7 separate regions of the Homo sapiens genome follow, and regions 1, 2, 3, 4, 5 and 7 are each linked to region 6. Evidence: fine-mapped expression QTL. A gene starts in region 6. Each other region holds a variant in brackets. All regions are shown on one strand. Distances are from middle to middle.

What was found.
Region 1: its variant is fine-mapped to the expression of ADD2 in whole blood (TOPMed, PIP above 0.99).
Region 2: its variant is fine-mapped to the expression of ADD2 in stomach (GTEx, PIP 0.98).
Region 3: its variant is fine-mapped to the expression of ADD2 in whole blood (TOPMed, PIP above 0.99).
Region 4: its variant is fine-mapped to the expression of ADD2 in tibial nerve (GTEx, PIP 0.92).
Region 5: its variant is fine-mapped to the expression of ADD2 in whole blood (Lepik 2017, PIP 0.95).
Region 7: its variant is fine-mapped to the expression of ADD2 in esophagus mucosa (GTEx, PIP 0.96).

What each region holds. Positions count from the first base shown.
Region 1 is chr2:70,656,195-70,660,260 of GRCh38, reverse strand. ADD2 (adducin 2) reads left to right here. Exons shown (of 16, transcript NM_001617.4): 16 at 1-3,477. Among named protein-coding and RNA genes, the nearest start is that of TGFA, 100 kb to the right of the region's middle. The variant G/A (reference allele first, on the strand shown) is at 2,024.
Region 2 is chr2:70,714,233-70,718,298 of GRCh38, reverse strand. All of the region lies in intron 1 of ADD2 (adducin 2), which reads left to right. Among named protein-coding and RNA genes, the nearest start is that of ADD2, 52 kb to the left of the region's middle. RefSeq lists an enhancer at 3,965-4,066. The variant G/A (reference allele first, on the strand shown) is at 1,802.
Region 3 is chr2:70,742,189-70,746,254 of GRCh38, reverse strand. All of the region lies in intron 1 of ADD2 (adducin 2), which reads left to right. Among named protein-coding and RNA genes, the nearest start is that of ADD2, 24 kb to the left of the region's middle. RefSeq lists an enhancer at 1,125-1,626. The variant G/T (reference allele first, on the strand shown) is at 2,108.
Region 4 is chr2:70,886,158-70,890,223 of GRCh38, reverse strand. It overlaps LINC01143 (long intergenic non-protein coding RNA 1143), which reads right to left and starts at 2,353. Exons shown (of 4, transcript NR_126384.1): 1 at 2,044-2,353; 2 at 1,876-1,938; 3 at 636-748; 4 at 240-403. RefSeq lists an enhancer at 1,846-2,496. The variant A/C (reference allele first, on the strand shown) is at 1,855.
Region 5 is chr2:70,975,024-70,979,089 of GRCh38, reverse strand. ANKRD53 (ankyrin repeat domain 53) reads right to left here and starts at 460. Exons shown (of 6, transcript NM_001115116.2): 1 at 275-460. The coding sequence starts at 444. LOC105374795 (a long non-coding RNA gene) reads left to right here. Exons shown (of 2, transcript XR_001739534.2): 2 at 2,782-4,066. RefSeq lists silencers at 24-83, 444-533 and an enhancer at 1,561-1,830. The variant G/A (reference allele first, on the strand shown) is at 2,376.
Region 6 is chr2:70,766,649-70,770,714 of GRCh38, reverse strand. ADD2 (adducin 2) reads left to right here and starts at 2,515. Exons shown (of 16, transcript NM_001617.4): 1 at 2,515-2,829. RefSeq lists enhancers at 1,275-1,839, 2,249-2,814, 2,815-3,380.
Region 7 is chr2:70,702,852-70,706,917 of GRCh38, reverse strand. It overlaps ADD2 (adducin 2), which reads left to right. Exons shown (of 16, transcript NM_001617.4): 3 at 476-692; 4 at 2,459-2,597. The coding sequence starts at 510. Among named protein-coding and RNA genes, the nearest start is that of ADD2, 63 kb to the left of the region's middle. The variant G/A (reference allele first, on the strand shown) is at 1,695.

The sequences.
Region 1 (4,066 bases), 110 kb after region 6:
TTTCCAGTTTTATTTTGTCTTGGTGTAGAATTGCTGGGAGAGGTGTCCAGCCATCCTGCCATTTCTTCTTCCCTTGCACAGAATGTGGCACATTTAGCTCCAGGCTTGAGGACATGCACCAAATGCTACAGAAACAGACATGTGGTCCAAACAAATCTACAGGCTATTAGAAAGGAAAGGCCATTTTCTTTGGCTGTGGATAAAAGTTGGCTGAAAACTTTGACCAATATCTGACTGGAGAAAATGTGTATTCAAGAGCTCAGATTTGGTGGGCAGTAGGTTCATGTCTGGTTGAGCTACTGTGCTTGGATGTGCCAGAGAAAAGGGTAACATTTGAACCAATGTGCTGCTCTGTGGCTGGCTGAGCTGGGAAGTGGAGAGGTTTCTGAGCTTATTTCCATCGCAAGGCAGGCAGGAGGAGAGAGGACAAGAAGGATTAGTGGTTTCGCAGAGACAGGCTTGGCTCCAACGGCTCCTTGCGTAGTGTTGGCTGCACCCAACAGTGGTGTGAGAGAACCGTCCATACCATGTGACCTTCCTCCCAAACTGCAGAAAGAGACACCTTCTAGCCCAGATCTGGACTCCCTAAGAGCCTCCTGGCCTGCATGCAACCCAAGTAACTGTCCTACTTTGGCCAGTTGACCCCCTCCACTCTCCTATAACTAAAACAGGGTTCTTCCTCTGTGAACAGATAAGTTCTTTTTAAAGGACTTGGGGGAAATTGGATGAAGAGCAGTAAGTTCTTACAGTAAGAACCCCACTGTAAAGCACTGCCCTCTGCCACTGATCCATGTAGACTGAATTTGAATCCCATTCCCTGTGGATGATACCGTCACTTGCTCATGGTGACATGGCAAGACAGTCATTCAGATGTTTGGCATTGTTGTAGCAGGGCTACTGCTAGTGTGGGGGAAAATGCTATAAATCCACTTCTTTGATTGCCATGGATTTGAAAGAACCATTTGCCCAACAGCATGATTCGCCTCTGAAAGTCTAAAAATAATTTTCAATTTTTCCATGAAGGTATGTGGAGGGTAAACACACAGCCTACGCATAGGTCTGCATGACATGTTTTTTCTTTTTCTTTCTTTTTTTTTTTTTTTTTTTTTTTTTTTAGACGGAGCTTTGCTCTTTGTTGCCCAGGCTGGAGTGCAGTGGTGCAATCTTAGCTCACTGCAACCTCTGCCTCCCGGTTTTTCAAGCGATTCTTCTGTCTCAGCCTCCCAAGTAGCTGGAATTACAGGAGCCCGCCACCTTGCCCAGCTAATTTTTGTATTTTTAGTAGAGACGGGGTTTCACCATGTTGGCCAGGCTGGTCTTGAACTCCTGACCTCGTGATCCACCTGCCTCGGCTTCCCAAAGTGCTGGGATTACAGGAATGAGCCACTGTGCCAGCTGACACGTTTTTTCTTTTGTGTGAATTTTATGTTCTAGTTTTGGGACAAGGGTAATCAGTTCTTGACTAGTGAACAAATGAGAGAACATTTACCCCTTACTCATTTTACACATGCAGGTCAGCAGAAGCCCTAGAGTTGGTTGGCACAGTCGCAGTTGACTGAGCATAGAGGAAACAGGTCTTTTTACATTCTCTCTCATCACTGGAGCTCAGTTGAACTCTAAGACCTTAGCACTCAAAGAGTCTGAAAAGAAATGAGGGAGAGGCTAAATTTAAGCTCTCCACTCCCACAGAAAGGACAGGGCACCCTACAATCTAAAAGCCAGTGAGGCAGCCTATCATCTGTTTCACATCTGTTCTGAAAGGGATAGTTTAATGCAAGAAGTAAGAGGCCTGTAGTGACTGTAAACTCATGAAATGTGCACATTGGTTATCTGTGCACATTTCCACTTGCACCATAACATAAGAAAGCGTACATGGAGTGTAATTACTTCCAGAAGCCCCGTCTAACCAACCTATTCAGATGTGGCACACTTTCTGTCATAAATGAGAGACCACACGTAGAGCTCGGTCACCAAGGAATGCCCAACATCCCTTTACCTCTCACAATGAGCAGCCACGCTCACC[G/A]GGAAGCAGTGTGGGGACTTCAGTGGGGTGTCCCTTAGTGGAGAACACCTTTCATCATTTTTATAGAGACAATTCCCTTGAGAATGTAGGCTTTTCATCTTAGGAACAATTAGGAAGAATCTCCAGCTGGGAGTGTTCTTATGTATACAGAAACAATGGGTCGCATTGGTTCATACTTAGGTGATATTAGGTTTGGCTATATTGATGTTTGGTGCCACTTACCTTCTAGATTTTCCCAAAAGTTGGGTCATTGCTATGGGAAATTGGGGCCTGCAGATGGGGGAGAAATGATCATTATTGGTGCAGGGAAGGGGTTCAGGCAGAGCTGGAGTCTGAGGCTCAGTGTGAGAAAGCACTGGCAGTTTTCTAGTAGAGTCAGGTCCTGGGCTCCTCTCCTCACCCACTGTGTCCCGAACTGAGGCCAGCTGTGATCGGCAAATTGCTTATCTCTAGGTAGTTTAAAGAAAACGTAAGAGTTTGGGGGGTGGTGGGAGAATAACTGTAGAAAGACCCTAAACTCTTCTCTCCCCCAGCAAATTATCTTGTATAATGTTTAAAAACCCAAAGGCCAGATCTCCCCTTTTAACGTGAATCAGAAGGAGGATGGCAATTGGACCAAGGGCAGAGTGGCCACACTTGAAACACATTATAAAATGGGAATATATTTCAGGGAACCCCACCCCCACACTTCCACTCCACCTCACACCTGTTGGTCCTGCTTTGTGGGTGATTGATTGATACCCAAGGACTGCCCCACCTTTAAATTCCTGCAATTTATGCTGCAACCAACATCTTAGTGTTTGCTCTCTCCGGGAAGAGGCCAGGTGGGGGAGAACATACGGTCCAGAGCCTGAGATCGCCTGGCTGGGGTGCAGGCAAGCAGGAACCCAGTCTAGATAGAATGCAGTGTTCTCTAAAGCTATGGATGGTTTCAGTGAAATGTCTGTGTCTGACAATCGTCACGCAAGAGTACTTACTGTCTTCCCTTGTACATACATTGTCTGTGTTTAGCTTTTCCTAGTATTGTGAGGTTTCAAATAGGGGTTCCATGTAAATACTCTTTCTGCTACTGAAATGCCGGCCCCCTTGAGTATGCATCACCCCCACAGATGGTTTTGCCTTTCTCTATGCTAACACTTTTTGAGCCACTGACGTGCAGATCGGTGGTTAGTTTCTTGGGCTTTTATTTTGCAATTTTATATATATACACATATTATATATATATATATATTTATGGGTTGGTTTTGTATAGTTTTCTGTTTGAATCTCTGAGCACCAAAGCTGCCCTTTGATTTTCACGAGAACTTTCCAAAGCCACTTCCTGAGCCCTCCTGCTGCTTTGGTGTCTGACGGTGATGCTGCGGTGGCATCTCTGCCCGTGAATTTCTGTATGTGTGTGCTGTTACCTCACCTGCAGACATGACCCTAGTAAATCTAACGTGCTTGGCTTCCCAGTGTGTGTGCCCCATCTCTGTCGGCTCCTCAGCTCTCCTGGCTCCCAGGGGAGAAGTCAGAAAGGGGGCCCTGTGGAAACATGGACCACGCAAGAAAATTGTACCCTTGAGGCCATTTCTCACACACGGAAAGCTGAACATGTGTCTACTTGTGTTCTGATTTGGGAAGGGCGGTTATAAAATACTAGACTCTCCTGAAAAGGAAATGGCCATGTGGATTTGAAACAGCTCTGTGGAGGAAGCTCAGTTTAGGTGGGTTGGGATAGGGGAGGAGCATTGCACAAACACACATGTGGACGGCCCTGCAGGGCAGCAGCAGCGGCAGATCTATAGGCTGGAATGGAAGAGGGTGTCAGGCCAGAGTGAGAATCTTGGAGAGGGCTAAGAAGTCACCCCAAGGGGTGAAAGGAGAATGGAGAGACTAGGTGGGGAAAAAGGAAGAGAGAAAAGAGGAAAGAGAGCCTTTGGCTCCTCTTTATTCAAAAACTACTGTGGAAGCTCAGTATTCCTTGAGTATCCACACATATGTGGCAGGTGTTGTTTAAGTATCTCATGCATCGCACCCACTGAGCCCCCATAAAACCCAGAG
Region 2 (4,066 bases), 52 kb after region 6:
CCCGGGCACCAACAGATACTTGACAAATAACTGTTTATTTAGTTAGAGGGTATGGGAATGATTCCAAGTCTGTAAGAAAGAATACTCAGTCCATTCATGCCACAACAATCCAATTCCTGGATAGAAGAACAGAAAAACGTTGCCTACCAACTATTAGGTTTGAGGTCGTTTGCTGGAGGACTTTTAAAATTCACTGGACTTCACTAGGAATGTTTGCACCAGGGATGCCCAGAAATAAGTACTTATGGGGTCTGCAGCAGTGAAGGAGTTAAAGGATTCTTCCAACTAAGGGGGTGTCTGGAGATGGACATAGACTTTACCATCGCTGTCCTGCCTCTTTCTCTCTTTCTTCTTTTCAACTATTTTTGGCTTAAATGATCACAGCAGTTAATACCTAATCTAGAACTTTGTAAAATTCAGAAGCATTTGAAAAAATGATGATAAGCTTTCCCCATAATCCCACCCACCAGAGGCATGAGCCTTCTCTTTATCTGAACACATCAGGCAGGGTGCGGTCCAGTCCCTTATTCAACTGTCTTCATTTATTCTGTAAAAGTAGCAGCAGCTCAGCCCTGACCATCTCCTCTCTCACTTGTGGGAGTCTCATTTAGGGATCGGTAAGTCTGGCTTCTGACTTCTAGCCTAAGTCCTGGAGCAAATGCTATGCCGTCCTTGTGGGGAGCTGATCCGTGGGGCCGGGGCCTGGGGCTTTCAGAGGCCAGGACTGCTGAGGGACCCATGGCCATGGCTGTTGGGGAGCACCTGGGAAGTGGCAGCTTGCGTCTTTCCACTTTGAGCTCTGGGTGCTGAGCCACACAGACTGTCTGTTCCTGTCTGGAGACTCCCCCACTGAAGTGGCAGGAGATGGCGCCTGCCTCTGCTTAGGGCACATGAAGCTTAAGCCGATTTTAACAAAAAGTCAGACAACTCGGGCATCTATTACTCCCCTTGTAGACCTTTTGTTTCTCTTATAGCCACAAGGAACGATCCATAGAAATGTGATTTCATACTCCAGTGGTTACATGTACTTGGTCTTCAGTGGGACAGGGAAGAAGATGCTTGGTGACAGGAAGCGTGTCTCATGATGTGTAGTCTCCAGCTGCCCTCCTACCAGGGCGAATCCCAAGCAGGGACTCTGCTGAGGGGCTGCAGAGGTGTGAGGAAGTGAGCTTGCCAGGCCTAGAGGGAGCTCCTGGGTTCCTCTGTGCAGAGAGGAGGGTCCCAGCTGAGGGAGGTGAGGGGGTGCTCAAGGGAGGAGGTGAGAGAGACAGAGAAGAGAGCAGGGCTGAACATGGGAGAGCCAAGGAGGTTGTTGTGTGTGATGCATGGTATGTAATATTACCTTCCTCTCTGTCTCCCCATAATTAATGTCGGATTTGTTAATGTAAGAGTTGCAATCTGTTGCTGGGTTCTGTCTCAAATTAGGCAAGAAGGGTGGCTGAGGGGCCAGCCACTCAGTTATATACCAAGACAAGAGGTGATTTGGGCACTGAGGCACCTGCCATGCACTCCTCCATGAACACTCAGCACCTTACCCTTCAGGGTCTGTCTCCTCACACTGTACCGTGAGCTCCCCTCAGTCCTCACTTGCTGCTGGGACCTCAGGGCTGGACAGGGCTGCTTCATTAAGCTGGCCCAGCTCTTCCCAATTTACCTTCAACTAACATTTGTTCAGCACCTAACTGGCACCAGGCCCTATGGCAACAGGGAGGATAGAGAAACGCAGAGACACAGGCCGCCTGCCAGGAGCTCACGGTAATAGATTGTTGCTGCCAGGCTGCAAGTGGAATGGAAGAGGCAA[G/A]TAAAAGTGATGTGAAAGCCCAGGGCGGGGGTGTAGGGGGCAGGCTGCCAGAGGAGAGGACACATGAAATGCAGGGAGGAGGTGAAGAGAGGAGGGTGTTCCTGGCAGACTCCAGCCCCAACCAAGAATCTGCTTTGTGCCTCTTGGGTCCTGGGAATAGCCCCTGGAGAGCAGGGCAAATGCAGAGAGGTCAGGGGGCTGGGAATAGAGGTGTCATCTGAGTCTCAGCCTCATCCTACAGGGTAGCTGTCCTCAAGGAGAAGGGGCTGGCAGAGAGAAAAACGCACAGCTCCCAGCTGGGCATCGATGGGCTTGGATTGTTAACATGGGGTGTGCATTTGGTTTGACAAAGCCCATTTGGATTTAACACTTTATATTTGGAAAATGTGAAAAGTATACCTGCCATTTTGGTAATAAAGGCTAAATTTGACTAGGTTTTGGTTGGAAAAGCAGGGCTTTAAAAAGAAAAAAAAAGGTTAAGGAACACGGCCACTAGAGACAGAGATGGATTTTTAGCAGGGCAGTGACAGGCATGGGCCAGGAAGGACTGTGGACCAGAGATCATTAAAGGATGGAGAGATGGAGGCATGATTCAGGGCCTGGCGCTGCGGGTGGAGAGATATTTAGGACATAAAACCAGAGACCTCAGTGACCAATTAAATGTGCAGGGCAAAAAGAGGGAGTCAAGGTGGGATCCCATGGTGGGATGCCTGGTTGGTAGGGGGCAGAGAGGAGGGGGCTGGGGAGGCTGCGGTGTGTGGTGAGCAGGAGTGATGGTCCATTTGCAGGTTGATTTTTAACGAGGCTGCAGGACACAGGAATAGGCAAAGGCCCCTGAGTGTTTTAATGTCCGGGTTCACAGTTCAGAGGGCAGCCAACAAGGACTAGAATGTACTGCCCTAACTCCTGCCGCCTCACAGCCCAGCTTGACTGCACACCAAGAGCAGGGGGCAGGTGGCTCTGAGGGGCTGTGCCTCTGGTGCTTTCTGAACCACCCAGGGGGTGTCAGGCATCTGTTTTCACTACATGGGGCACCATGGCTCACACTGTCCCTTGCATCTCTGCTCTGCCTGAGGGATGTGGGGGCTGGAAGCTGGAGAGAGCTAGGTTCTCAACGCATGTGCTAGGAAGCTGAAGTCTGCACAAGAGGTGATGCTGTGCTTGGTACAGCAGCTTCAGCAGGCTCAGAGGGTTCTGTCTGGCCAGGATTATCTAAACTCCCCCAGGATGGCAGCCCTGCTCTAGGTGCTGGGGCCTCTCTAGAGCAGCCCTGGCATTAGGCCTCTTTCTCTTCCCTTCTCTCATTAAAACTTGCTGATCTGGTGCCTGTCCTGCCTGCTCAGCCCAACTCCCCAATCAGAGATTTGACAGTTTCATTGCCACAGGACAATGGTTTCTAGCTAATACAATTGCCTCAAATACCTCTCAGGACTATTTTCATTTTAATTAGGGCGTAACACCATAACCCAAGGAATGGTGCTCTGGTGGGGAATTTCAGCAGCAATGGGGGTTGGGGTGGGAATTATTTTGTTCACTGTATATTTACATTGGGGGTCAATGTTTGCTTTCTTACAAGAATGGTGCAGGCTACTTCTAGGGGCAAAGGATGAATTCTATTAGCACACACAAAAAATAGCTGAGATTCTGAAAATTCAAATCTTAGCAGGTTGTGGCCACAGGGCAGCCTCAGACCTTCTGGGGAAGGAGAGGAAGCTGGTGTTTGAGGCTGCAAGATTGGTTCTTAGGGAGGGCAGTGGAGATACATCAGCAAACCCCACCCTGAGGCCAGCCCTGGAAGGGAGGCCATTGGAGAAAGGCAGCATCAAGTGGTGGCTAGGACCCTGTTCTAGCTAAAAATAGAACCTCTGGGAGAAGGAGCTCAGCCGGCACTGGATGTGCAGAGCACAGTCTCATTCTTAGAAGCAACCTGTTCCTAAGTAGATGGGCGAGCATCAGGACTGGGCTCAGGGACCATCTGGCACTGAAACACTGAGCCCCAGGCCCCCTGGCTGGATTGAGGAGGAGGCTGAGCCTTAGTGGGTGTGCAGGTATCCTGGATTCCCACAGGCACATTGTACCTACCAAGATGAGTTCTCCTTGTCCCTCATTGGTGGGACGAGTCTCTTCGAATGCCTCCACTCTGGACAGCATTGGGTCAGGGATGAAGTGAGCTGCCAGTGAGCCAGAGCCATGGGCAGGTGGCGGTAGGGTGGGGGTACTCAGGGATGCTGCCAGCCCTGGGTGAGACAGCCCCCAGCAGCTCTG
Region 3 (4,066 bases), 24 kb after region 6:
AGAGCTCATAGAAGAGGCCTATTAATTCTGCTCCAGAGATCAGAGAAAATCTCACAAAGGGGTTGACATTTGAGCTGGGCCTTACAAAGCAAGTTGGAATATTCTTGCTTGGTTCGATTCCTTCTTGGAAGAATCCCTTTAATCACAAAAGGTATTTTATTTATTGGGTGCTATTTTACAAGTCATTATCATAACGACAGTCTCACTAGCTCATTATTGAGTTCTGAAAAAGGGATATCTATTATTTACAACTTTTCCCTGTCATTTCCATAACCTGTAGGTTTTCAAAATAGATTTGTTTCACAGTGAATTTAGATAAAAACAGTCCTTATTTTGACAATAACTTACATTGAGTGATATTTATGTAATACATACAATTAATCTGTTTCTCTAACTGTTGGCTACAGGGGTTGGACTCAATTTATCTCCTCTCTGCAGGGTCTTTTGTTGTCCTTGGATACCACCTCACATATGTCCCTGAGTATATAAACTCATTAATCATAAAGATGGTGACATTCCTTGGAGTAATTGGACATTATATAAAAAGCATCTGCTGTGCTTTCTCAGGAAAGAGGGGCAAGCAATCTACTGTTCCTAGCTGCTCTCCTGGGAGGGTTTTTGGTGAGGCTATAGTCTGGCTTTGGATGGAGATCTCCTGCCCCTCCTGCTTTCCCAGCACGTGCCATTTTTCTGTTTTGTGTGGGGATGTTAGAAACACTGTGAACCTCAGAGAGGCGGCCTGCATCTCAGGAAGAGACCAACCCCTTCACATCTAAGTACAATGTTCACACTCTGAAGCCCTCCTCTCACATCTTAACTTGTTCCCTCTCCTCTGATTCTGTACTTTGTGGTACTGTCCAGAAAGGAGTGTGGGAATAAGAAACAAAAACAACAACAACAACCCTACAGCAAGAATGGGGTTGGGGTACTTTAATAGTTCACCTTGAAATCTTCTTTTTTTTTTATTTTGAGACGGAGTATCGCTCTGTCGCCCAGGCTGGAGTGCAGTGGCATGATCTCGGCCCACTGCAAGCTCCGCCCTCCGGGTTCACACCATTCTCCTGCCTCAGCTTCCCGAGTAGTTGGGACTACAGGCGCCCGCCACCACGCCCGGCTAATTTTTTGTATTTTTAGTAGAGACGGGGTTTCACCATGTTAGCCAGGATGGTCTCGATCTCCTGACCTCAAGATCCGCCCGCCTCGGCCTCCCAAAGTGCTGGGATTACAATCGTGAGCCACCGTGCCCGGCCGTTCACCTTGAAATCTTAAGTTCAGTTCCATTAACTGATCCAATGCTCGAAAGAAGACAATTAGAGGTACATTCAAGTCACCACCAAGTCCTGTGTTTTGTTTTGTTTGTTTTTGTCTCCTAAACATCCGAAGCCTATCCACTGTTCTCCAGCTCCCCCAGGCCCTGATTCCAAGCCCGGTCTTCCCCACCTGAACATCTGCTGCTGCCTCTAACTGACCCCCACACGCCCACTAGTGACCCATCCCCTATTCTATTTTTCAGTGTGAGCATTCAATATGAAAATGGGACCTTGCTATCCTCCATTTAAAGCCCATTAATGTTTCCCATTATTCTTAGAAAAAAGGCAGAATTCCTCTGTGCTCGAATCTCATAGACCTTACCCTTTGCCACTCAGCTTCAGCCACAATGGACTTCTTTCAGCTCCTTCAACTCATCAAATGCTGTCTAGCTTTCGAGCCTTACATTAGCTGTTCCCTGCACTAGGAATGCCCTTTCATGTCATTTATATCTCAGCCTTCCACCTCTTCAGAGGTCATTTTCCCTTTTTCTCCCTGTCCCAGCATGTCTGTATGTATTGTCCACACATACAGCTATACAAACACATAACACACAATTTAGTTCAGAACCGTTTGAATGAAGTGCAGATATCATGCTATAATAAATACTTCAATGTGTGTTTCCTGAAAACAAAGACATTCTGTTACATAATTGCCCAATACAATTTTTGGTAATTGTAAACTAGACAATTAACATCGACAAACCTTTCATAAACCAGGCAATTAACATTGGTACAATCCTACTATCTAATCTATAGGGTTTATTCAAATTTTGCCAATTCCAATTATTTCCATGGTG[G/T]TTACCAAATGGTGACTATGTTGCCCTATTTTAATTCTTGTCATAGTTCTTATTACTCTGAGTTTTAAGAGTGTAGGATGTATTATCCATTTAGGATGTAAACACTAAAAATAAGCTCCTTACCTGGCCTGTTTACTCCTGTATTTCCCCTGGCACCAGGAACAGTGTCTGACACATAGAAGATAAGTATTTGATTGATGAACAAATGAGTAAATGGCTGACTGGATGGCTATGACCTAGCATGATTTGGCTGCCATGTGTCATCCCTGCTGTCCCCTCTAGGCTTCTCAGCTCTGCTCTGGCCACACTGGCCTTCCTTTAATTCCTCATGCTCTGTATGCTCTGATCTACCACAGGACCTTTGTACCTGCTATAGTAATCTGGCCTGGAACACTTTTTTCTTCCTATTTCATTGTTGACTCTTGTTTTTCCTTACAAGACTTGATGACTTTAAATACAGTATAGCCACAGCTTCCAGGAAGCCTCTACTCTAGGTTTTTCAAACCAGATTTATTTTTAAATAGACCTGGCAAGTATTTCAGAATTTTACAAACTTCTTTGAAATGTTACACACTTGTTGAGAAGAAAGAGCATTTTCTTCTCTTCTTCTCCCACTGTTAAGTGTTTTGAAGCAGATATTGTCCCTAATAAATTACCTGACTGGTGGTAACATACAAAGCAGCCTGGAGAGAGGAGACAGCCATAAGACGCTGCCTCTTCCTCTGTGAAATGCTGAACTTTTCCTTTCGACCAGAGGTGCCTTATGCTCACATTTCTTTCATGGTAATCCAGCTCTCAGAGAAGTGGAGTAAAAATACAACCAAATTATATTTTGCACATGTCCTTTTATGAGTCATATGCTACTGTATGTATTATCCAATTACACATGCACAGTACTGTGTGGGGTGATACATGGAGAGCCATGCCCTATTCCTCATGTCCACTGAGGAGATGTTCAATGATAATTTTGACTCCAGCCAATATTGACCGTACTGACAGGCTATGGACGCTGACCAGTCTATCATAAGATGTGACTTTGCTGTGATAATTTTGACCTCCTTAGCTAATTCATTAAATACAGTCTTGGATTCTTGAGTGGACTGTGCTATGCAACAGCAGTACTAATATTTTTGAAGCAAGATTCTCACTTAACACATCTGTAACATAGGATCCATAGGATAGGATTTAATAAGATTTTCAAAGAGAGTGTATATTTTTCCCTCATGGGCAAAGTTAAACATACATTGACAAACTTAAATATCACATAACTTAAAAAAACATAACATTAAGATGTATGTAAGTATAGCCAGGGACCTCATTTGTAGGCTCCCTAGGTGCTGTTCAAATGGTGTTCTATGGCAGGGAACATAGAACTCTTTTGCCAGATTTATACATACAGAGCACATCAAGGACTTGAGTGGATTGTATTGCCCTAAAAGGTCAGCCCCAAAGACAGATAATGGCTACAGTACTTTGTTTTCTTTGCGGCATTCCTCTTATTTCATTCACTGTTGTTCTATAGGCAACAAGAGTTGAAGAATCAATAGGTACCAGTTGAGCCTGACTTGATGTTTCACCTTGAGCTCCATCACTTTGATTGCAGATATCGTCATATTTTCTTTTAGAATTCCTGTTCTTCAACCAGCAGTCCATTTCTTTTTTTAAGGGAAATGATTTCACTTCATCTAAAATAAATAATATGTATAAATATTAAAAGTTAGCTAAGAACACCTACAACTTAGTTCTGCCTTGTCAAGAGCTGATTCCAAGCAGATGTAGCTGAGCTGTTTCTGGTGTGTCACTGGGCCCAGTGAATATTTTCTCTGGTAATGTACTTGATTATACATTTTCATGTGAGCAGACACAAATGGGTTTTACTCTCTAAAAAATAACTAGCTCAGAAATAGCACTTTCTTAACCAAAAACATGTTTTGGGTAGTTCTTAAATCTGCATAGGCA
Region 4 (4,066 bases), 120 kb before region 6:
TTTGTGTGTGTGTGTGACCTGTGTTTGTAAATGTGTGTAGTGTGAACTAATTTCATCAACTTTTAAAATAATGACTTTTACTATTTTTTTTTTAAGAGACAAGGTCTCACTCTGTCGCCCATGCTGGTTGCAGTGACACGATCACGGCTCACTACAACCTTCTACTCCTAAGCACAAGCTATCCTCCTGCCTCAACCTCCTGAGTAGCTAGGACAACAGGCAGGCACCACCACACTCGCCTAATTTTTTATTTTTTATTTTTTTGCAGAGACGAGGGTCTCGTTATGTTGCCCAGGCTGATCTGGAACTCCTGGCCGCTAGGGCTTCTCCCTCCTTGGTCTCCTAAACTGTTGGGATTACAGGTGTGAGCCACCCCGCTCTGCCTTTTCTTTTTTTTCTTTTTCTTTTAAAAGGAAAACATGCATCTAAGAAAAAATTCTAAGCAGCACAAAAGATTAAGAAATGACTACCAGGTGTCTCTCCAGAATCTCAGCCCCATCCCTAGAAGCTCAAGCTCTCGTCCCATCTCACTCTCCGGTTTTAAAAATGAGATCAAGTCGCCCTGTCCGCGGTTCTTCCTGCCTGCCCGCCTCGCCGGCCTGGCTCTGGCTCCTAGCGGCGGGTCTCCTGCTTACCTTTCCTGCGCCCTCACTGCGCGCCAGCCACTTGGGAGAGTGCTTGCTTCCCCACAGCGTCGCCAGTTTGGTGTGTTACCGAAGATTTTGATCTTTGTGGGTCCGATGGGTTTCTTAAAGAAAGACATGAATTATGCTAGGGAAACAAGAGGAAGCAAGAGAAGGGCAGAATGTTTGAGGCAAGAGACGCTTTGCTTGGGTCCTGGGGGTGCGAGCGCGGGCTGGGGACAATGCGGGGGCAGTAGTTGCCTGAGCTCCAGATCACACCTGCACTCAGAGGCGGGAAGCCCTTATCCTGGTCACAGCCGCGCGAGCGGAGAGAGGCGGCGGGGCGGCGGGGTCAGCGGGAATTAGCGCGCCAGGGCCGGGGCGAGGGATTGCCGCGGGGCGAGAGTTCGGGACGGGATTAGCGGGTTCAAAAGCAGGTCAGGGAGAGCTAAGCAAGGCGACGAGGTCCGCGCGAGGTCAAGGTCCCCGAGAGAGGCGGGTTCCGGACTGGGCTCGGGAAAGGCAGCGGGCATTGCGATCGCGGGGAGGCTGCACCGGGAAGCCCAAGTTCCGAGCGCGTGGAGGGCTCGGCCGGCATTCGAGTGTAGGCCGCGCCCTCTGACGGCCGCGGGGCGAGGACACCTCTGACCATGGGCCTTGGTCGGGAGGAATGAGCGAGGGGCGAGGTGAACCCGGGTACGAGTGCGCGGCAACTTCAATGAATGTATCCGAGGTCGCCAGGCGCGCGCGCCGCAGATCTGCGGAACCGGGTTTATCTATTCGTCTTTTACATCGTAATCCCGTTTCCTTTTATTTTTACAACACTTTTTTTTTTCTGGCAAGGGAAGTCATCTCTTAGGCAAACAAACAGTCAAAAATAAAAATAAAAAACCGCACTGAACAATGCAAAGAAATGTTCTTGGCAGGAGCCAGTCTCTCCCGCGTCTCCTGGCACCTGTGGCCTCCCTGCGGAACAGATCCCAGAGTGTGACACCTTCTGTGTAAAAATAATCGCAACCCACACTCCACCCTTCTGTGCGTCCTGCACACGCACCAAGGGAGAGCTGGAAGGACAGCCGAGGGATACACGCTCTTCCACGAAATAAATATGTTTTAGGGGTGTGTGTGTGTGTGTGTGTGTGTGTGTCTGAGCCTCTGACTTGAAGTTATTGGAGAAGGTATTCACACATTATTTGGGTTCTCTCTTAAAGAGCTCTTGGGTTCTCTCTTA[A/C]AGAGCTCATGGGAAACACACCTGGCGGTACTGTGGGATGCGAAGTGGGCGCCTCACTCGGAAACCCCGGCCTTGGTGGATGATCTAAGAAAAAAAAAAACCCAGATGGACGGATACATGGGCACTTTCGGGATCGCTGGGTGCAGGCCGCCGTCGCCATTTCCACCGTCCACTACTCCAGGCACCTGCCTCTCGTCCCCAGCCTTGGCCTTTAGGTCTCCCTTCCCGCAGATGTCGCCTGGAGAAATGGAGCCCGGATGCTCAGGCGCGCGGCGTGGTATCCCCAAACCCGGGACCTCTGTTTTGGGTCTGGTTGATTTTCCACGGAGAACCGAAGAGTCCGCTCCTCAGGGGCGAAGTTTGCAAGTCCTTGGGGTAGATGGTGACGGGGGCTGGGGCGCGAGTGTGAAAGGACAGGAAAGGAAGGAGAGGGGAGAGAGAAGCAGGCTGAGAAGTGGGGGAAGCCGCGGAAGCCGGCAGCGCGGGAGCGGAGACGCGGAAGCCGGGTAGGGGGAGGGGCGGACTGGGACCAGGGCGAGGGGCGGGGCCGGAAACGGGCGGACTCGCGCCCTAGACAAAGCGCGGCCCGGTGGGCGAGGGCCAGCTGCTCTCCCCGCAAGGTCTCCCGAAACCGGGCTTTCGCTCGGCCAGCCGGCTGGTTCTGGTGGGGACGCGCAGGTTGCTAGTGGGGAAGCCAGTCCAAAGGGATCGATCGCCGGAGAAACCCCACGCATTCACCCAAACAGCCTTCGGCTCAGGGTGGCCGGAGCAGAGCCCAAGGGTCAAGGGCGAGGGGCCCCTTCCCTGCCCTTTTGTCCAGGTGGACTCTGTGGCCGTCGTTTTGTTCTGAGACCCCCTGGGAATGCCACTGCCGGGCCACAACCCCGACTGGCAGGTCAAGGTGCAGGAAGTCCCGCCATTAGAAATGCATTCCCCAGGCTGATATTACCTTCTTTTTCTCAGTTTTACAGTCATATACACAATGGTAAGACTCCTCTTGACGCCACTTCCAACCTCTGTGCACTGTTCGCATGGCTAGAACAGCAATAATAGAATTGAAAGCAGGAAAAATATCCCCGTGCTACCCCTAAAAGACTCAGTCTTTTTTTTTTTTTTTTTTAAATGTGCATCTTTATTTTGCATAATGTTAGTCCTGGTGAACATGTAGTTTTGTATTCAGTCTTTTCTACTTGAGGCCACACTTCAGTATTTGCTATGTGCTATGATCCTCATAAGTATACTTTTCAATGGCCGAGTAATGCTCTATTATGTTACTGTGTAATTTACTTAACCGTTCAATTACTTGATATTCTTCCGTGTCCAGTTTTTCTGTATGAAAATAATACACAACCTAAAATCTTCGTGTATATAGTTTTCTCCTTTGGGGAGGATTATTTCTTCAAGATTCTTACTGTTTCAGCAGGAAGGGGACATTTTCACTACTCTTAATAAATTGCCCAACCGCTTCCCAAAGCAATTTACGCAGGCATTTATTTTCGGGTCATTATGGGCGTGGTGCTACCGGTCAGGAATGTCCAGACTAAATCAGTCCCACCCTTAGAGCACTTTCCCTGCACCCCAAGCCTCTGGGAGGCAGGCCCTTGGAGCAAAAATTACCGCGCAAAGTGGGCAGCACGGTAGGGAGAGGAAAGAAGAGGCAATGGGAGCCGGGGAGTGGGTGAGGGGTGTGGGGGTTCTTTCCCCAGCCTGGAGAAAGTCAGGTAAGGCTTCACCTGACTTAGCAAGGAAGTGAAGGTGACTCCCGAGTACAGCCCCAGGCAGGGGTTTGCCAAGTAGAAATGGAGAGAGAAACATAGAAACCTTTGTCTGCGCAGGCTGCAAAGTTTGTTGGGTTTGGAGAGGTACGTAGTGGTTATACGCTGCGAGGGATCATAAATGTGGGTGGAAAAGTCCAGGAAAGTGGGATTCTCGCCATCCAGTCCAAGGAAATTGGAAACAGACAGCCTGGTTATTGTGCATTTGCATTATTTTAAACGGTTGCTGTATTAATAGAGGCATGATTACATAATCATTATTGTTGTAAATTATGTTTTACTGAAAACTAGTTTACATTTCCTTATTTAAAAATACTAATTGTCTTGCTTTCTGACTCTTGAGGCTGAAGAAAGAAATAGGAATTGTCCTTTAAGAAACAATTTCTTCTCTAAACCACAGTAATATGTATTTTAAATCATAAAAGCAATACATATAT
Region 5 (4,066 bases), 210 kb before region 6:
GCGGGGCAGTGGGGAAGCGACTCTGGGCCACGGCCCGGGCACCTCTCGGGAGGCGATCCCTGGCCCCCGCCTGGCTGGTGGGCGGGGCAGTGGGGAAGCGACTCTGGGCCACGGCCTAGGCACCTCTCGGGAGGCGATCCCTGGCCCCAGCCTGTCTCTGCTGGCTTCTCGGGCCGCAGCCTCCGCCCCCGCCCGCTCCAGGCCCTGCCCACCAGGGAGGCGCTGGGCCGGGTTCTCGCTCCCTGCAGCCGGGACACCTTCTCCCGCTACCCACCTGGGCTGCTTGGACTCCGCGTCAGTCCAGGTGGCCTTCAAGGAGACTTTGTTCGCCTGCTGCATGGAGCCACTTGGAGTTGGCTGCGGCCGAGCACCTCTCCCTTCTCCCCTTTCTGAGTGCCAGCTTCCGGAGCCCGCCCGCCGAGCGGTGCTGCCCGCGGAGGCCATCGCGGGGCTGGAACTCGGACCCGGGCCGGGCGGGCTACTCACACACCCGCCGGCGCCCCGCCCCCGGGGGCCACTCCTTGCCAGCTGGCCGCGGTTTCCCGGCCCCTTCCAGGCCGCTAGGGTTCGGCTGCCTCTCTAGCTGGAGGGGCAGAGCCCGGGGGCCTCCGGGGACCCTGCCCGCCTGCCGCTCCCCACCCGCCGCTCTGCTCCCGGTCTGAGCCAAAACCCCCACTCAACCTCCCAGTCCTGCTGCCCGGGAAACTCAGCATCAAACACACAAACAACAAAGACACTTGGCTTTTGTTTCCGATTATCAAACTAATAAGTAGAAAACAGAAATATTCAATGTGGAAATTAAAAATTACCATCCCACCACGCACAGAAATCATGGTTTATTGCAATATATATGCATATCATGACTATTTTTTGTATCTCTTTTCGTTTATTAATAGCATTATATTACGAGCTAGCGCCCATTGTCACTCCACATACTAAACGTACATTATGACGCAACCAGAGCCCAGCGTCATAATGGATGTGCCATTGTTTCACATGTGCTGCCAAGAACGAAATGGCTCAACTCTGGTTGTTTTCTTAGAATGGATTCCTGGGAGTCGAATCACTAGGTGAAAGGGAATGAATATTTTTCAGCTGTCAATATGGGCTTGCAGACTGCCTTCCAGGAAGGTTATTATTCACTTCCACTTCCACCTGCAGTGAAGCGGGTGCGCTGCACATCAGCAGTGTGGCTTTTGGCAAGTTATCTGACTTAGTTTCTGTGGGCGGCAAGCCACCCAGGTGCCAAGGCAAGAGACCGAGGGCACAAGCTGTTCCAGTATAATAAAATATACAAAACAACAAGAGTTATACTAGATCTAGATCTAGATCATAGACGTGATTATATATGAATATCGTTAATCATTAGTTTGTAGCAATTACTCTTTATTCCAATATTGTAATAATCCTCGCTCTATAATCATAACCTAGGAAAAACCAGGCCATAGAGAGATAGGAACCAAAGGGACATAGTGAGAAGTGACCAGAAGACAAGAGTGCGAGCCTTCTGTTATGTCCGGACAGGGCCACCAGAGGGCTCCTTGATCTAGCGGTAATGCCAGCGTCTGGGAAGACGCCGGTTACCAAGTGGACCGTGGTCTGGCGGACCCTGGTCTGGCGGACCGTGGTCTAGCGGTAGCATCAATGCAAAGGAAAAGCACCCGCTACTTAGCAGACCGGGAAAGGGAGTCTCCCTTTCCCAGGGGGAGTTTAGAGAAGACTTTACTCCACCACCTTTTGTGGAGGGCTTGACATCAGTCAGGCCCGCCCACAGTTATCTGGAGGCCTAAACATCTCCCTGTGACGCTGTACTTCAGCGGTCACACTCCTGTTTCACTTTCATGTTCCATCCTGTACATCTGGCTCTGCCTTCTAGATAGCAGTAGCAAAATTAGTGAAAGTACTAAAAGTCTCTGATACACAGAAATAATGGCGTAAGCTGTCCTCTCTCTCTCTCTCTCTCTCCCTCCCCCTGTCCCCGCCCCCACCCCCACCCACCTCGGCTGCCAAGCAGGGAAGGGCCCCCTGTCCGGTGGACACGTGACTCACGTGACCTTATCAATCATTGGAGATGACTCACACTCCTTACCCTGCCCCTTTTGCCTTGTATCCAATAAATAACAGCACAGCCAGGCATTCGGGGCCACTACCGATCTCTGCCCTCTTGGTGGTAGTGGTCCCCCGGGCCCAGCTGTCTTTTCTTTTATCTCTTTGTCTTGTGTCTTTATTTCTACAATCTCTCATCTCCGCACACGGGGAGAAAAACCCACCCACCCTGTGGGGCTGGTCCCTACAAGTTGCTACAGCAGCAAAATGGGGATAATAGCACCTACTTTACAAGGAATGAAGGAATGCAAACAATGAGAACAGTGCTA[G/A]CAGAGAAGCACTACCTGTGAATCTGCTATTACTCAAAGAAGAACTATTCAAACCATTGCTAGCATCAGATATTAGGATTTTAAGTAAATGTTCACTAATTTGGTAGTGGAAATGATGTTCTAATGTGGCTCTTTGATTACCAACAAGGGTTAAACATTTAATTATCAGTGGTTTTGTCTTCTAGGAATTCTTTTACTCACATGGTTCTTTGAGGGCCTTAATGTGTTTCTTACTGATCTGTAAAACTTATTAGCATAGTGACCCTTTATGTATGTTATATTTGTTGTCAATATTTTCCTCAGTTTGCCTTTTGACTTTTTAGAATATAGAGTAGCTAAGCAATAACTGTTGCTTGAATCAGTGTTGTCTTACTGAGCCATCCACATTCTCATCCCTTCTCAACAGGAATGACCCCAAGTTTATCAGAAGGCTCCTGTGGCTCCAGGGTCAACTCTGGGCATATCTGACTACATCACTCCACCCCTACCATGGTCTCTCCTCTGTACCCCAGCGTTCCAGGTATTTCCCCTAAGAAAAGGACAGAAGGTCCCCTAAGACCACAGTGACCTGCAGAGAGGGACAAGAATACAGATTATCCACCCAGAATCACGTTTCTCCCTTTCCAGGGTACTGTCTTCTGAGAGCGCACTTGTCTGCCAACCCCAGTAGCCAGGACTCAGCATACCTGGCAAACACCTTCAAAACTAGCAAATCATGCTGGCTATCTGCCCCAGGTAGGGCCTTAGCAACTGGCTTCAAGTTGAGATAAAGTGACAGTGCTTTTCAGGGATACAGTTTGAAGATTTCCTGGGCTATTGTTGCTTCTGGGGTGTTAGGATTCTAATAATTACAACAGGACCCTGTGTATGTGGTGGGGTTGGAGAGAGCATCTCAGTACCTCTCCAAGTTCATCCTCACTATCTTGAACTGGGGTATCTTACATCTCTATACCAGTGTTTTGCAACCCTGGCTGTACAAACACCAATGCAGGGGTCTTACCCCTACAGATTCTGATTAATTCATCTGGTTTGGGGCCTGGGCATTGGTATTTGTAAAGTTCTCCAGGTGATTCTCGTGTGTAGCCAGGGTTGAGAACCACTTTAAGGCCTTTCTGCCTCAGTCAGGGAGGCAAGAGGCTGCAGGTGATTTTGAGGGAGAAGGGTCAATAGAGTAAGGGAGGAAGAAACAGGAAACTAGCAGAGTCCCCGGGGGGAGAGAATGTGTTATCCTAAAGACCCTTGGTCACAGCCATGCAGCTGGGCAAACAGATAACGCCTGGTGGAACAACAGAAGCTGGACCATGAGAAGGGCAGACAGCAGAAAATGCCCAGAGAAGGGTTCAATTTCTTCTTTGGAAGGTGATGGTAAGGGTGTGGCTCCAGATTAACTGGTTCTACAGCTCCAGGCAAGGGAGATGGAAGGCTGAGGGGAGCAGGTCCATCAGGGAGCAGTTGGGGGAGAACCTAGAGAGGCACTGTCTGTACACTCCAGGGCCAGTGCCCAAGGCCAGATGCTCCTCATCTATTCTCTAAACCACCCCAGGATCCTCTTGAAGCTTAAGCTAGTTTAGATTGAGCTTCTGTCACTTTCAACTGAAGCTTGACTAGTAAAAACTCCTGAGGTTAAAGCCTCTATTGGGTAAAAGAATTAGAACCAGTGGGATAGTCCCAGAAAAGAGCTGTGTGGGCTA
Region 6 (4,066 bases):
ACATATATATATAAAAATATATGTAATATATATAATATATATTGTGTATATGTAATATATATAATATATACATATATAAACATAAATATATATATGTATCTCCTGTGATGACTAGGGGAGCAGAATCATTTTTTTTTTTGCCGGGGGGAAGGAGAATGTATTAGTCTTATCAGCCTTTCAGTGTCTTGTACCAGCTCTGCTTTAAAAAGTTTATTTTTGGCCAGGCGTGGTGGCTCACGCCTGTAATCCCAGCACTTTGGGAGGCTGAGACGGGCAGATCACCTGAGGTCAGGAGTTCCAGACCAGCCTGGCCAACATGGTGAAAACCCATATCTACTAAAAATACAAAAATTAGCTGGGTGTGGTGGTGCGTGCCTGTAATCCCGGCTACTCGGGAGGCTGAGGCAGGAGAATCGCTTAAACCTGGGGAGAGGAAGTTGCAGTGAGCTGAGATCATGCCACTGCACTCCAGCCTGGGGGGCAGCATGAGACTCTGTCTCAAAAGAAAAAAAAAAAGTTTATTGTCCCCTCTGGGAGGCCATGCAGTGTAGTGGTTAGGGCCCACAAACTCTGGAGCCACAGCACTTGAGTTTGATTCATTGCTCAGCCACCCACTAGCTGTGTGACCTAGGGCAAGCGACTTAACATCCCTGTGCCTCAGTCTCTTCATCTATAAAATGGGGATGATAATAGTACCACCCTCACAGAGTTTTTGCAAGGATTATGTGAAAATGCATGTAAAGCTCTCAGAACAGTGCCAGGAACCAACAAGGGTTTGCTAGGATTCATGTGAGAAAACAAAATAACACACTAGGAAGAGAAATTTTGGGGGATGGAAATGACTGGGGTGACTTATGAAACCTGCTATTTCTAACAAAAATTCTCCATTCTTTTTGGGGGTTCTATTAAGATATAGAGCCCACCTTACCTGTGACTTCTGAGCTCTGGAGAAGGGGTTCCCTGTTTCTCAGATCTCATCACCCATTAGCACCAAAAGAGCTATGGCTGCCAGGAATGACTCAATAAACATAACACGTCCTGGCTTCTTTGACCAGACAGACCTAGGTCCTGGGGTGGGGAGGGGAAGGGGTTTCATCTTGTGTGGCTGAGCCTGTTGTAATTCTTCTAGCAGGTTTTGACAGGAGAATGGGGAGAAGTCTTGTGGACTCGGTGATTCTGAATGAGAATGAGTGAGAAGCTCTGAGTGTGGAAGGAGGGTGCAGGGACCAGGTATGCATGTATGTTTCTTGGAAGGGGGGCTGAAGCAGAAAGACAAGTTTATCCTGGCATCTAGGGTTGTCGTTAGCATTTTCTTTTCTAAATCAGTAGTAGCTCTCAGAGTGGTGTTTCTAAAGTGTTAGTGTGCAAAGGAATCACTAGGGCTGCTTGTTAAAATTACCAATCCTGAGCCTACCTCCAGAGATTCTGGTTCCACAGCAGCACTGTGGTGGGGGCCAGTGACTTTTGTGGGGGTGTCTGAGGGCTGTGGTGCCCCAGAACCTGGAAGGGCAGAGGGGCCATGATCAGGTTTCAGATCAGTGGCCAGAGGCTTTTCTGGAAGCTGTACATTTTCACAAGCACATTTTCAAAAGCCCTTGGAGAGGATGTTGATTGAGGGGAGTTTTGGGGACTGGTGGAGATTATGGGGGTGAAAAGTCCAGAGCTATCTCTTAACACCCCTACTCTCTGAGGGCCAGGCCTTGAAAGTATTGGAAATGGGAGGTGCCTTAGGTACACTGTCATTTTACAGAGGAAGACAACGAGGCCCAGAGAGGTTAAGTGGGTTGATTAAGGTCTCACAGCTAGTTAAGAGCAGCTCTGAGACGGCAACCGAAGTATTCTGGTTCCCTATCCAGTTCCCCACTCACTACACACCTGTTCCTTCTGGGGCGGGAGACCTGAGGAAGGAAAGGAGTGAGAGGAGAATGTAGTGAGAGTTGGAGAGCGTTGGGTCCACAGCCCCCAAGGGCAGGGCCACAACAAAAATGTTGTCCTGGTTGAAAAGGAGTGAGAATCAGGACAGGGAGAATTTTGGTTTGGAATTCAGTCAAACAATTGCTATTAAAATCACTAATAGAATTATCTTCCGAAGGCTAGCTGTCCTTTCCAGACGAAAAGAAATATTCCAAGTCTAAGACTTTTGCTTTCTTCCTTCCAGGGAGAATACATTCCCCCAAGGGAGCTCTGTTTCAGATTTTCTCCCTAGTAACAGACTCCCCTGCTTAGCTCTGGCCATCCCGGGTAGTGAGTGGTGCGGGGCGGGGGTGGAAGGGGGCTGGAAGCCTGGCTAGGGGGGTCTGCGGCGGCGCGGGCGGGGGCGCTGCGGGGAGGAGGGGGGCGCTGCGGGGCGGTAGTGGGGGTGCTGCGGGGCGAGGCCGCTGCGGGGCGGTGGGGGGCGCTGCGGGCGGGGGCACTGCAGCACCGCGGCCCTCGGGCGGCCGGCGCGGCCTGCTGGAGGGGGCGCTGTGGGCACCGCGCAGCGGCCTTTTGTCAGCGCGCAGGGCCAGGAGAGCTCTCATTTCCTCCCAGCCTCGTGCGGGAAATGGCTTTAATTCTGACGGCAGGGCTGTGAGGGACTAGCGGGAACCCGAGCCTTTTGTCAAGGAACTGCGGCGTCGGTGGCCAGTCATCCCCGCCGCCGCGGAGCCGCTGCACTGCTGGGGGATCTCCCAGCAGCTCTGACGAGCGCGGGCTGCAGCATGGGCAGAAAACGCTGCCCTGCAGATTAGCTGGGTGGATTTTTTAAGCGCACCCCACCCCCCAAACCCATAAAATAACAAAACCAACCCGCAGTGGCCGACCGGAGATAGCTAAGATGCCGCGCAGGAGGTAAGGGTCTGGGGAGCGGGCCTGGTGGGCTGCCTGGGGTCGCTGGTCTCCTGGCGCGGAGACCCTGGCATCCCTCGGCCGGGCGGGAGCCGCTTGGCCCAGGTGGGGCGCGTCTGTTGCCGAGCGCGTCGGTGCTGCAGCCCTGGCCGGCAGCGGTGTGTTTTGCGCCTAAAGGTTTCTGGTGATGATGTAGCATCCGAGGCTCTTAGGAAATCGGGGCTGCAAGCACTGGCCCCTGCTTGGGGATGGTGGGACCCTCGCCCGGAGCGTAACGCCTGACAGGTGGGGCTTTCTTTTGGGTCCGAATGGAGGGGCGGCAAGCCTCGCCTCGCCTAGCCGGGCGGGGCCGCTCCTCCCCTCCCCTCCCTCCCCTCCCCTCTCTTTCCTTCCCGCTCGGCCGCCGCCCTCCGGGGTAGCGGTGCGAGGCGGGCTTGGCGGGGCTGGGCGCGTCCCCCGGGGCCTCGCGATCGCTGGCTGCGCGGCGCTCAGCCGCAGTGGCCGGCCGAGCAGGTGCGGCGTCGGCAGCCGCCTACATTGAGATCGGGGCAACCGGCACGTGAGCGGGCCTCGTGGGTTTTGATTTTATGCGGCTCCACCACTTTGGAGGGAAAAATCCCACTGTACCCGAGGGGGTCTTGCCAGTCTGTTTCTTCCATCTTCCCTCTCCTCTCCCTGCCTCCCCTCCCTTTCTGCAGCCGGGGCGGAGGCCATCCCCGGTCCCGGAGGCGGGAGTCGGTGTCTGCTTATTTTTAAATCACACCACAGCCTACCTGGTGTTGGGGGGAAGGGAGGGAGGGGCAGACTGCTTTAGGATGCAGATCAGGCTCTCGGGTCTGGCCTATTGTCTTGCCTTTTCTCTTCCTTCCTTTTCTCACCCCTAATCTCCATCTCTTGCCCAAAACTAAAAATAGAAAATAGGAAATAGAAATAGAAAATAAAAAAGCAAGCTCCAGCCCACACCCTATCAAATTCTTTAAAAAACTGTCATTTATCTCTGACACATGATTAATACCCATCTGTTTCCTTACACCCACTCTTCCCTCTTGCTGTTTGTCGTCTAAGATTCAACTGACTCAGATGAGCTTTATCGATAATAGAAATCAAATCTCAGTTTCCTAAATGCACATTTCGTGCTTCCCGAGTAACCCAAAAGGAGTGGTTGGTCTGGCATCCTGGCAGAAGCAAAGGGATTGGAGAGGGTGCAAGCAACTGCTTTCATGTCTAGTTTGTGGATCTA
Region 7 (4,066 bases), 64 kb after region 6:
CAACCCATTACCTAGGTGTTAAGCCCAGCATGCATTAGCTATTTCCACCATAATTTTTGAGGGGCCTTATTAGAGGGTTTCCATTTTAGATGAAGTACTGATTTCCAGTAAGTAGCTTACCACTGCATAGGTGTGCATCACAGAAATGCTCAACAAGGTCTGCAGGTCATGTTTCCATTCGGGGAACTCTCTACTCCAAGCCAAGTGTGACCATTTAAGGGCTGGCTAGTTGGGGAAGGGAGTGGACACCTGAACCCATGTTTTTACTTAGTCTCATGGCACAGCAGCGCCCCTATAGATGGGTATATGGGGCCGCTGCTGGCGTCCTGCCCTCCTCCCCAGGCTCTGCCTCTACCATCCTAGGAACAGCCGTACCCCACTGAGAATCCAACTGAACCTAGCCCTGTGCTCTGAGAAACGTGTACCCCGATGGGGAGCACCAACCTGACCGCATACCCTCTCCCCTTCTCTGTAGAGTTCCAGGAGCGAATTGCAAACCCACCGGGAAAATGAGCGAAGAGACGGTCCCCGAGGCTGCCTCGCCGCCGCCCCCGCAGGGGCAGCCTTACTTTGACCGCTTCTCAGAGGACGACCCCGAGTACATGCGCCTTCGCAACCGGGCGGCGGACCTGCGGCAGGACTTCAACCTGATGGAGCAGAAGAAGCGCGTCACCATGATCCTGCAGAGTCCCGTGAGTGGGGCTGACCCGGGCGGGAGAGGGCGCAGGGGGCGCTGGCTCTTCAGGACGTGTACCCACCCGAAAGATGAGTAACTCCTCTTTCCCTTGCTCAGGGTCAGTAGAAATGTAAGCCCACTGAGCAAGACGGATCTGGTCACCTGGGGCCTTGACACTCTCCCTTGTAACTGGTGGATGGCAGAACCTGGCTTGTGTGTGGCAGTTTGGCTTGGTGCGGGGGGAGGTGGGACGGAGACAGGAGTCCCCCTCAGTTTCCTGTGCCCCTTCGGAGCCTCAGTTCCCAGTCTTCCCTCCTCACCAAAAGCTATGACAGTGAACGGACAAATCCATGTAAACTAGAGACCAGCAGGGTGCCAGGAGGAGGGCTTGGGGCTCCCTTTACTGAACACCACAAAGTAAGAACTTTCTGTCGGGACAAATGAAGCTTTGACATGAATGGGATGGGGCTGAGGAGAGCCTGGAAGCCCCAGGAGGTGGGCAGAGTGGAGGGCTCAGCCGGGCTGTGGGATGGGGTGTGGGAAGGGAAGGCAAGTCGGGATCACTCACATCCCTCCTTACTTGGGGCCAGTTGGTTCCTGCCTGGCATGGACACAGCTCCTCCTTGAGGCAGGTAGTGCCTTGAGAAGGCCGAAGGGTGGGCCCTGTGGACCACTGAAGGCAGAGGGAGATCACTGTGGTGGAGGCAAGAGGGGTCTGACTGAGGAAGAGCTTGGGGGGCCTCAGGAATCAGCCCATGATCCTAAGGATCGGGAAGCCCAGGGACAGAGTTGGCATCTCCAATTGCTTGCCAGGATGGGCTCGAGATGGGAGCCGCTCTGCCTTGGCCTTCTGGGCTCCAGAGAGCCAGGGCCTGTGCAGGGGCTGTGTGAGACCCTGGCTGGGAGCCATGGTGCATACTCAGGCCACACAGAGCAGCTCCAGGGAATGGGCCGAGGTCCAATATCTGTGCCCAGATATTGTGTTGGGGAGCTGGGAGGAATATGGCAGATGCTGAAA[G/A]CATTGGGGTGAAGAGCCTCTGGGAAAACCCCCAGAGTGTGACTAGGAGGGGTGGCAAGGGGGTTAGGAGAGGCGGCAGAGTTAGCACCAGCCCAGATTTCAGGGCTCAGGCAGTAAATAGGGGTTGGAGGAGGGCCTGCTTCCTTCTTCCCTTTTACAGGTTGGCCAACACACCTAAGTGGCCCCCCATTTCCTCCTGAGTGTTTTCTCCTGCCACCTGGTGGGCAGGATTCCTTGCTTATGGCTTCATGGTCTGAAAAGCCAGGCTTAGAGTTGGACATCAGGAGTGGAAGTGACCTCAGAGGTCATCAAATCTTCCTGTTCTTCCTCCTACCCTTTCATTAAGCACATGAGGAAACTGAAGCCCGAAAGAATCACAGGCATCGCTAATGGAGAGGGATGGTGGCTCTCTCCATTCAGTTCTGCCTAAAAAAATGTCCTTCATTACTAAAGTGAAGTCCTACCATGTCTGATGGTGGGGAGGGGTCTTGGCCCTCATTTAGACACAGAAAGGACCTGGAATCTGGATTACTGCCCACAGGGCAAGGGAACACAAGATCCATTCCCAGCATTTCTTTGTTGCTTCCCATACAGCAATTCCTGAGGTCCTAGTGGAACTGCTCAGTGTCCCCTGTAGCTGGGGACCCTGAGCATGGCCCTGACCTAGCTGACCCAGGGGCAAGGGGTGGGCACTTGGAAGAGCTCATTGTTGGGCAGCTGTGTGAGAGGCTGTGGGGGGACAAGCACCTCGGGGCCTGCTTCAGTCTTTCAGGGAGGAGCTGGAAGGCCTCATCCAGGAGCAGATGAAGAAGGGGAACAACTCCTCCAACATCTGGGCCCTGCGACAGATCGCGGACTTCATGGCCAGCACCTCCCACGCAGTCTTCCCGACATCTTCCATGAGTATGTGGTGTCTGGGGAGCTGCCAGGAGCAGAGGTGGAGGGGAGGGTGGGGTGGGGAAGAGAGGGAGGAGCAGCAAGAAGCATCTGGTTGCCAGGCTATGGAGTAAGCAGCCCATTGTGTTATCAGGCCTTGGGGAGCTCAGCAGCAGCCAGAGAGGTACCTGGCTCTGCTTCTGATGTTGCTGCAAATTAAACGTCCACAGAAAAATTACCCCAATGCCAGGAATAAGAGGGTGGAGGTGACTTCAGTGGACGGGAAGAGACCACTGAAGCCTGTGTTTCCATGCCCCACTAGACAGGCCAACCTGACTCCACAGATGAGGGCTGAGAGGAGCCAGCCAGGGCTATGCAGGAAGCCACCCTCCTGGGCTGTTATGCTCTGCCCATAACGTTTAAAACACAAGCATCAAAAAATAACTCCCCCTCAATAAGATTATTACAGGATTATGGCTGAAAACTGTGAAAATAACCAAGAAAGGGAAGCAGAAATCATTCTACTGTGTTCTTAAAGCCCTCATATTACTATTCTTAATATTTTGGTGAACATATATCCTTCCAGTCCTTTTTTTCTTAACATATATAGATTATGCAAACACAAATGTAATCACATAAAATATGGTTCTATAATATAATTTTTGGTGGATACATGCTATTTAATAAATTTCCCATTGTTGGACTTTTAGGTTATTTCCAACTTTTTCTGTTAGGAACAATGCAATAAACATCCTTGTAAATAAACCTGAGATTATATCCGTGATTATTTTCTTAAGATAAATTACTAGTAGAATTGCTGAATTGAAGTACATGCATGCATGTTTTAAAGACTTTAATGCAGAATGGCAGATTACATCCTTTCTCCAAATGGATCCAATTTACGTTCCCAACAGTAATGCGGTAGAGTGCCCATTTCCTCTACCCTGGTCCATAGTGTATACTACCATTTGTTTCATCCTCCTGATTCAGTAGGTGACAAATAATACTTTATTTGTGTTTTAATGTGCATTTGTTTGACTACTGATGAGGTTGGATATATTAATGTATTTTCACATACATATTGGACATGATTTTCTTCCTTTCTCTCTCTCTTTCTCTTTCTCTCTTTCTCTTTCTTTCGTTTTCTTTTCTTCTTCCTTTCCTTTCCTTTTTCTTTTCTTTCTTTTCTTTTCTTCTTCCTTTCCTTTTTCTTTTCTTTCCTTTCTTTCACGCAGAATCTCACTCTGTTGCCCAGGCTAGAGTGTAGTGGTGCAATCTCAGCCCACTGCAACCTTCCAGGCTCAAGCAATCCTCCCACTTCAGCCTGCCAAGTAGCTGGGACCACGGGCACGCACCACATGCCTGGCTAATTTTTGTATTTTTTGTGGAGACAGGGTTTCACCATGTTGCCCAGGCTGGTTTGGCACTTCTGGGTTCAAGTGATCCACCCACCCCGGTCTCCCAAAGTGTTAGCATTACAGACGTGAGCCACCGTG